Regions from separate parts of the Homo sapiens genome. Here region 1 is linked to region 2. The links come from fine-mapping of genetic effects on gene expression. A gene starts in region 2. The other region holds a variant in brackets. All regions are shown on one strand. Distances are from middle to middle. Region 1 overlaps LIMS2 (LIM zinc finger domain containing 2). Region 2 holds the start of MYO7B (myosin VIIB).

The links. PIP is the estimated chance that this variant, and not a neighbour inherited with it, causes the effect.
Region 1: its variant is fine-mapped to the expression of MYO7B in atrial appendage (GTEx, PIP 0.98).

What each region holds. Positions count from the first base shown.
Region 1 is chr2:127,641,265-127,645,648 of GRCh38, forward strand. LIMS2 (LIM zinc finger domain containing 2) reads right to left here. Exons shown (of 10, transcript NM_001161403.3): 5 at 1,659-1,808; 6 at 785-935. Among named protein-coding and RNA genes, the nearest start is that of GPR17, 2.7 kb to the right of the region's middle. The variant A/G (reference allele first, on the strand shown) is at 2,153.
Region 2 is chr2:127,533,188-127,537,571 of GRCh38, forward strand. It overlaps MYO7B (myosin VIIB), which reads left to right and starts at 2,496. Exons shown (of 48, transcript NM_001393586.1): 1 at 2,496-2,644. RefSeq lists an enhancer at 2,528-3,378.

The DNA.
Region 1 (4,384 bases), 110 kb after region 2:
TGAGTCACCATCCCCTCCCAGTCTGGCCTCCCCCTCGGCAGCCTCAGCCCCAGGAGTCAGGTGCCAGCCTGGTGCTGCGGCATGGTGGGCCCTCATAGGCAGAGGCGGCCCTGCCTGTCCACGTGGGGCCTCCTGCAGGCACCCCCTGCAAGCCTGGGATCACTGAGCAGCACCTTGCATTCCCCCAGGGATCTGCATGTGAGGATGAGGGCTGGGGGCTGGGGCCTGCATCAGGGCAGGACCGCATGGCCTCCCACCCAAGCCGCCACCCAAGGCACAGCTTCCGGACACAGCGCTGGCCAGGTCATCAGGGGAGGTGGTGGGCTCACTGTTCCCAGTGTACCCATGAGAACATGAGAGCCCACCACCCGGTGGGGGCACTCCAGGTGACCCAGTGCTCACACCTGAGGAACTCTTCAGCTCCGTGTCTGCACAGGGCTGTCCATGCAGCGGGTTCTGTCATCCACAACCCCCAGGCACTCTGGACAGACTGCCCCCAAGGTTTTCTCCTGACCTTGGAGTCTCTTAGAATGCCAGCAGGGGGAAGAGGAGAGGTGGGCACAGCTACCCAACCGTGTGTGTGCACTCGGGTCTCCTGGCTCCCGTGGGCAGGCTGGGGTCCCTGGCTGAGCACAGGGAGGGGCAGTACCCCTGAGGAAGGGCCTCGTTGGGAGCCAGCCACCCGCCCTGGGCTGGGAGTGTGGAGGAGCTTTAGGGCTCTTACCATGACCCTGAGCTGGGGCACCCCCCAACCTGAGGCCACGTGTCCACCAGCCTGGCTCACCTCCACGTGCCACTGCTTGCCCAGCGCGTTGACCACTCGGCCCTCGATGGGCCGGCGGCAGGCCCCGCAGATGGGGACGCCCATCTTGTCATGGCAGGGCAGGCAGTAGAGCTCACCCTTCAGCTCGCGGGCCTCGGCTGTCAGCTCCTTCCTGGAAGACAGCGTGCAGCCCCCAGGTGCCACCCCTGCCCTTCTGCAGGGTCATGCCAGCAGCGCCTCCACCCCAGGGCACGGCTCCCCGAGGGGCCCATTCTGTCCCTGCAGAGCCGAGGCGGCAGCGCCTTCTGATCTCTGGGCACTTTGAAGACTTCCTGTGCCCCAGACAGGCCCTGGAGCACAGACTTCCTGCACAGCCCAGAAGAGTGGGCTGTGTTCTGCACCCAGGCCTCTGAGAAGCAGGTCTGTTCTTGGGCCCCCCTCCTCCTCCAAACCAGAGGGGGTGTCTGGATAGGCACGGAGAGGACTGGAGGGGACGGTGGGGGTGGGCGAGGACGGGGGCTGAGGGGCTGCCTATGCAACTCCTCTCTCCAACACCAGCACCAAGCCCACTCCCGGTCTCTTGCCCTGCCCCCTCAGGTCCCTTCCACTGCTCCATCTCAACCCTCGTCTGCAGTCTAGGGGTCCAGCCCACCCGCCTCCTGAGTCTCAAGTGCCCCCCAAACAGAGCCCTGGAGAGAGAAGCTTCCTGCCATGGCTGCTTCCCAGCCCCCAGCCCACCTCTGCCCTGCAGCCTTGCTCTCGGGACCCCTCTGTCTGCCCACCCTGCTCCCCTCTCCCTCCTCAACACTTCCCCAGGTGGAGGCCCCACCGCCCTTACCCTGGGCCAGCCCTGGCTCCCCGCCCCCACAACTGCAGGGCCGGGCTGCGCACCTACCCACAGTGGGTGCAGTTGAAGTGGTCAGGGTGGTAGGCGTCGCTCCTGAACATGAGGGGCTGCTCGTCGATGACCAGGTGGCACCGCTGGCAGATGTACTTGCCCAGGCCCTTGGCCTTCTCACGGTTGTGGCAAGGCCGGCAGAGATGCCTGCGGGAGGCGGGGGCATTAGGGGCAGAGCCCCCACTCCCACACAGCCTGGCCACCTCCAGGAGAAGAGAGGCCAGACCCCTGCAACTTCACTGAGCAGCTGGGGGCTTCAAAGGGGCTCAGCCCAGGGTATGGGAAAGCAGACTGCCCTGTCACAAGGCCCAGAAGGTCACAAGTGTGTCCTGGGAATGGGACGCATGCTCAGCAGGAAAGATGCCAGAATGCTCGAGGTTACTGTCTCTGGATGGTATTTTCCTCTTTCTACTTTCTCTAAGCCTGGGGCATGCTGCAGAATACAGTAGACATTTAATTGATATCTGCTGAAAGCATTATTTTCCCAATGT[A/G]TTTAACACACACGAGTTATAATGAGTGTCACTGTGCCCAGCAGAGTGGCCAGTGAGTGTCCCGGGAGGCCCACTCACCCCCTTCCTTCGGGGTTTGCCAGATGAAGAAGGGCCCAAACACGTACAGGCGATTTCTGTCTCCAAAGACAAGCACTGCTATGTCAGATGGAGGCCCCCAAACCCAGGAACTGTCACTACAGAGTCTTTTTGTGAAGACCTCAGAATAATTTCTGATGCTACTCGCTGTGTTGGACGACAGCTGTGTTCTCAACGGAGAGACAAATCAACATGGTTTCTGTTTCCTTGGACCTCAAAGGTGGCAGGAATCTAGATTCAGAGTCCCCAGGCAAAGATACACAAAGGCCCCAATCCAACCTCCCTGGCCCCCGTCTCCACCTGCCACCCGAATCTCTCTCTGGTGCTCCTGCTGCATCCAGGCCTCCCTTCCCAGGCCCCCCAGCCCCAGGGGCCCTCTCCACTCCTCACGAGCCTCCACGGCTGCCCGACGCCCAGTGTTGGCCCCTCTGACAGGCTGGTCAGGGAGGATACGGAAGAGATCCAATCGCAGACCCAAGATCCCCACCCAGGTTATGGTGGGCAGACCCCAGATGCCAGGGCCACCCATTCAGCATCCCTCCCTGGACCCCAGGACCTGCTACTGCTGGGTGTCTGGACTCCATCCTGCACAGCACTGTGCTCCATCTGCCCTGGGGTGTCTCATCATCAGCTGTGTGCAGGGCAAGGGGCCCAAACAAAGGCCCAGCAGTCACTGGCTAAGCTGCCGACTGGCTCTCTGTGCCTCCCCAAGACCCTATGTGCCCAGCAGGGGGCAACAGCTCAGGGTCAGCTGACCGAATGCCTCGGTGAATGAATGACTCTACAAGAGAGGAAGGGAGCCTCGGTGGGCATCATCTCCCCTCGACTACTGGCCAGAGCCCTGGCTCTTACACCCCAGCGACGGGAAGCAGTTGTGGCCTGTGGCTTCAGTCTTCATCACCACAATCCCTGAAGCCCACCCTTGCCCAGACACCTGTGCCCCAGCCCCAACCCCAGGCCACCTCCTCAGCAGGTCTGGGGCTGAGCTGCCCCACCTGGCGCCTATGGCGGCCAGCCCATGCCCCCTGCGGTGCCTCTGTCCCAGACTCAGCATGTAGGCCCCATGACCCCACTCCACATTCTGGTGACTCCTCCTGAGCGTCAGGACAACACTCAACCCACGAGGAATTATTTCTGTCTCAAAGATGCAGGAATCAGCTCAACGCCTCAAAACTCCATCACCACGGTCAATGCCCTTGAAGCCATCGACAGTGATCACCCCAATAACAGAAGGTCTGTGAGCCCAGAAATGCCCTGCTCAGGGTGGTTAGCTTCAAGCCACCACCTTTCCAACCAGCCTGGGCCAGTTCTTCCAGACAGCCGCCTGCGGGCACAACAGGAAAGAGACCTGCGCCCCGGCTCAGACACCTCACACCCAGCTGGCTCTCAGGCCAGACAAACTGGGAAGCCCATCTCTCTTGAAGGAAGTCCAGATGGGAAACAGCTTCTCAACAGACCAGATCACAGCATCAGATCTAAAGGTGGCCTTCAGAATTCTTTTTCAGGTTGAATTAGGATCAAATCTAAGAATTCTAAATTCAAAATGCAGCAGAAAAACAAAACACACACACACACGGAGCCTAAGTTCTGGAGTGACATGTGCTTGGGTTCAAATCCTGGCTCTGTTGCTTCCTACTGTTTGTTGATGGGTGAGTTTCTTCATTTGCCTGAGCCTCAGTTTCCTTGTCTGTAAAATGGGGCAATAATCCCAGCTGCACAGGGTGATGTGAAGAGACAAATTTAAGACACTGCCCCTTAAATGCTAGCCACATACATACAGTTTTCAATGTTTAAACAACAAAATGTAAAGTCTTTTGAAACCAGGAAGGGTGATTTGGTTTCCCATGTTGCTGGATGTATCATTTTCAGAAAGACAGAGAGAAATGAACTTTGTTCACTCAGTCTCAGAGGCGGCCGCCGGCAGCATTCAAAGGCACCCCAGCCCGGAGCCACCCCAGGGAGGAGCCCCAGGCCAGCGGTCAGATTCATGGGCTTCCGTGCAGAAGGGGAGCTGCACCGGCGAGCACCCGGCCTCTGAGCTGAGCCGCATCCTCACGGACAGGACAGCGCCCCATTATGAGGCTCCTGCAGCTGTTCCTCGCTCCAGATAAAGGCCATGATTTATTCTGTGTGCCC
Region 2 (4,384 bases):
ATTTTGCATAAGGTGAGAACTGGATGGGAACATCTTACAGATTGTTTTGGTCCACACAGATTTTCTGTCCCAATATTTTCTTACATGAGGGCAGTAGAAAAGGTCCGAAGAGGACTCAGTCTCAGCCCCAGAGCAAGGGGTTCACCATCTCTGGGAGCTGCCAGGAGCAGCAGCGTCAGCCCTAGAGGAGCTAAATGGTATCTTTCTAAACCCGAGAAACCATGTGCAGCATGAAGCTCAAAAAGGCTGAGTGTGGACCCAGAAACCGAACCAAATTTTAGGGAGCAGGAGGCTAGTCAGAGCAAGGGCAGAACTTGGGGGGCTGTTCTAGGGGGAACAGGCGGGACAGGGGGCCGCCTGAAAGACTCGGAACATGCAGCTCCCTCCAAGTGGTCCTTCAAGGGATCTCCCAGCTTGGTTCCCTGTCTTTGGGATGGGCCATTTGGTTTTAAGATACAGAAACTCCTTCAAGCCATGTCAACAAAGAGAACATTTAATAGACGGAAACTGGGGACTCCATGGAGCCCACCCACAGGAGGCACAGGAAACCCTGAGGCATCGGGGGTCTCCTCCTGTCTCTGGAGCCACTGGGTCTCCACCTCTGCAGCTTGTCCACCTCTCCTTTTCTCTCCCACCACCGCTTGGTCTGTGTCCCCACGAAAGGTCCATGTTCAGGGTTGCCACCCTGCCTTGACCTCAGTTCTAAAAGACGATGGCTCATTCCCACATTTCTGCCTGCAGTTCCCAAGTCCCTCCAAGTCCAAGGAAAAGAAAGGAATCTGATTGGCTCTAGTTGGGCCAACTGTAAGGATGACCAGACCCCTTTTTTACCCAACACAAGGCCTGTGGCTGACCAGGTAACTACCTGCCCCTATTATCCACCCGCCTTCAAAGCCTTGCATAAATGAGCTCCCCTCGCCCTCCTGCTCACTTCCAGGGACTGCCTGGCCCCTCCAGTCTGACCCCACCCAGGGCCCACTGCGGTTGCACTTCCCTTCTAAACAGTCTGTATTTGCCTTAAGCCCAAATCCCCCTTGATCAAGTGCCAGCCCAAGCCTGCCCAATTTGTTGCCAGGTACCCTCCTGGGAACCTTGTTGTCTGATGGCCTTTGTCTCTAAGGCTTCCTGATGGCCCCAGACATGTCCCAGGTGTATGCTCCTTTCACACTCAACACAGAACACTCTCTTGACCAGGTGTCCAAGCAGTTCTCCAGCAGACTCCGTCTGGATGTCCTATAATTCAATTCAATCAGACACTGTCAACCTGGAGTCATAGATCCCACAGGTTAAGGGCTCAGTCCCACAAAACTGCCCCACTTCAAATGCAGTCTCAAGTCCTAGGTTGCCACCTATACTTCTGACCAATTGGCTATAAATCGGGGTTCCCATGCCCCACACCTGAGGTTGGATTTGCTAGCATAGCTCATGGAACTCAGGACGGCACTCATATTGACCAGTTCGTGGGAAAAGATTTTACAAAGGATTACAGATGAGCAGCCGAATAAACACGCACAGGTGAGTTGTGTGGGAAGGTCATGGAGCTTCCATGCCCTCTCCCGCATGCCACCCCCCAGGGACCTCAGATGTGTGGAAGCTTGTCAAATCTTGTTCAAGAGTTTTACCTTCCCAGAGGTCAGTAGGCGGGGCTGAAAGTTCCAACCCTCTATTCACTAGGTCTTTCTGGTGACTGACCCCATGCTGAGGCTAGGTAGGGCCCCCACATGGTCACCTCCTCAGCATAACTTCAGGTGTTATCAAACGGACTCATTATGAGATGATCACTTGGGAAATTTTTTGTTTGTTTGTTTGTTTGAGACGGAGTCTCGCTCTGTCACCCAGGCTGGAGTGCAGTGGCCCGATCTTGGCTCACTGCAAGCTCCACCTCCCCGGTTCACGCCATTCTCCTTCCTCAACCTCCAGCTGGGACTACAGGCGCCCGCCACCACGCCCAGCTAATTTTTTTGTGTGTGTGTTTTTAGTAGAGATGGGGTTTCACCGTGTTAGCCAGGATGGTCTTGATCTCCTGACCTTGTGATCCGCCTGCCTCGGCCTCCCAAAATGCTGGGATTACAGGCGTGAGCCACCATGCCCGACGATCACTTTGGAAATTCTAAGGGTTTTAGGAGTTCTGTGACACCAACCGGGAACAAGGACCAAATATACTGTATTTTATATTATACTACCACCCTCAATTAGAGCTTGGGGTGCTTGGGGGCAGAGCTCCTGCCATGCAGCACCTGGGAAGATGCTGAGCCCCCGGATGGTCAGCTGACTGTCACCATGGGATCTGGCTGGTGGCCAGAGCAGGTGCACAGACTGCAAACCCTGGTGGCCTCCGGGCAGCATGCATCGCTGCTCTGCAGAAGGGGCCTGGGTTAAAGAGCAGGTATCATGAGGCTCTGCCAGCTGGGGCTGAGGGAGGCGTGTGGGAGTGGAAGTGCCTGGAGCCCAGGGACAAAGTCCTGTAATAAATTACGTGGGCCCAGAGTGCTCCCAGTCATTTCCTCTTGGAGCCCTACCTCTTCTTCCTCTGTCCCTTACTCCCTGACACACCCGGAGTCCCAACATTGCCTCCTTTCCTGGCTCTTTCAGGGTGCCCAGGGTGGAGGGGAAGGGGAGTCAGCCAGACCCCCATCCTGACAAGGTAAGGGCGTGCCGGGGGCGTGTCTGCCAGCGGGGAGTAGGGGGTCACCTCTCTGAAGAGGGTCGCTGGGCAGGAGGCAGGTCCCCTGGAAATAAGATGGAACAGGTCTGAGGGATAGAGAGTGGAGAAGCCCTTCAGGAGCCTGGAAACCAGAAACCGCAGCAGGGGACTCAGTCCATCGGGCTGAAGGGCAGCACCTGGGGGGCTGAGGAGGAGGAGGAGGGGGAGAAGCTGTCTAGCCCTCTGCTGTAGAAGGGCAAACTCCCTGCAGGAGGGGAACGGCAGGTGCCAAGGCTGCTCCCACCCTGAAGCCTCCTCACAGCTAGAGGGCCTCACTGTGGAATCATGGGACATCATGGATAGCCTGGGTCCCATGATGAGCCCCTGCCAGATGTCAGCTGTGCCGTGTGTGACATCCCACTGCGTCCTCGCAACACAGTGGTGGAATTGCCTCCATTTTATGGACACAGAGACTGAGGACCATGGAAGCGAAGGTGCCCACGGGAAGAAGCAGAGCCGGATTCGACTCCAAAGCCCAGGCTTATCCGCCTTACCCATGTACCTTGGGCAATTGGCTTTAGTCACCTCTGGAAGGCTGGGACCCTAGGGAGAGGCAGGACAGGTCTGGGGTGTGGTGGGGGGGGGGGTGGGGGAAGAGGTGGCTGAGGAGAGGGACCGCACCGGGGCTCACATGGGCTGTCCCCCTTGAGCTGTCCAGGTGGTGTGTGTCCCATCCCCATTTCACAGAGGACGAAACTTGAGACACAGAGATTGTGAGAGCTGGCCCAGGTCAGACAGCTGGTGGGTGTGGGGCCCCCAACCCAGATCCCCCAAATTCTCCATGACGAGGCCTCCCCTTCAGGCTCCACTTTGTAACCCTGGACTTGAATTTTGCTCTAATTTATCAGAACCCTGCACTTTGTTTAGGATTTTAGTTCAGAGATTCACACACACCCTCAGTGAATCATTGTTAGGAACCACTCAGCTCATCAGCCCACCCCATCTCCCTGGACCTGCTGGGGGCCCTACGTCTGTCCTCAGATGCCACCTCTAAGAGAATCCTCCCCAGGCGGCTGTCTTGGGGCCTGCTGCATCCACAGCTCTAGCACGGGGCTCTGTGGAGAGGCGGCACCACAGGGATGACCTATATGTGTTGATATTGCTTCCTGTTTTACATATGTCAAAAGACAAAATTATAAAAAATTTATCTTAAAGATCTTAATTGGCTTTTATTTGCAATTCTAGAATTGGGCAACACCCCACTTATAGAATACAATGAATGATCTGATGAGCCGAGCAGAGGAGTTTGGCTTTATAGACAGAATGGGGCTGAGAGAAACAGAAAACAAAAGGGGATTAGTCATTTCAATTTATTTTCCTTGTAAAGGATAGAGCTGAGGGAACTTCCTTATCATGCCCGCTGAAACTGGCCTGTCTGGGGCTCCAGCTATTGTCTCTCTCCTGATTCTTGGAAGGTCAGATAACCTTCGTTTGGGCCTGGTGGTGTGGAACTTCAGCATGAGTGACTCCATTTTGGTCTGGTCTGTTGGCCTTGTGTAGGAGCTCAGACAAAACCAATGGCCTCCATACATTTTACTTAACACATGTATTTAAATGATGTTTGTGTGCCCATTCTTGGTCCACATACCAAGCTGTTCAGGGAGGAAGAGCCAGAATCTTAGCACATTTTTCACAGAAGAGATGAAGAAGGGTAAAGGAGACTGGGCATGGTGGTGGCTC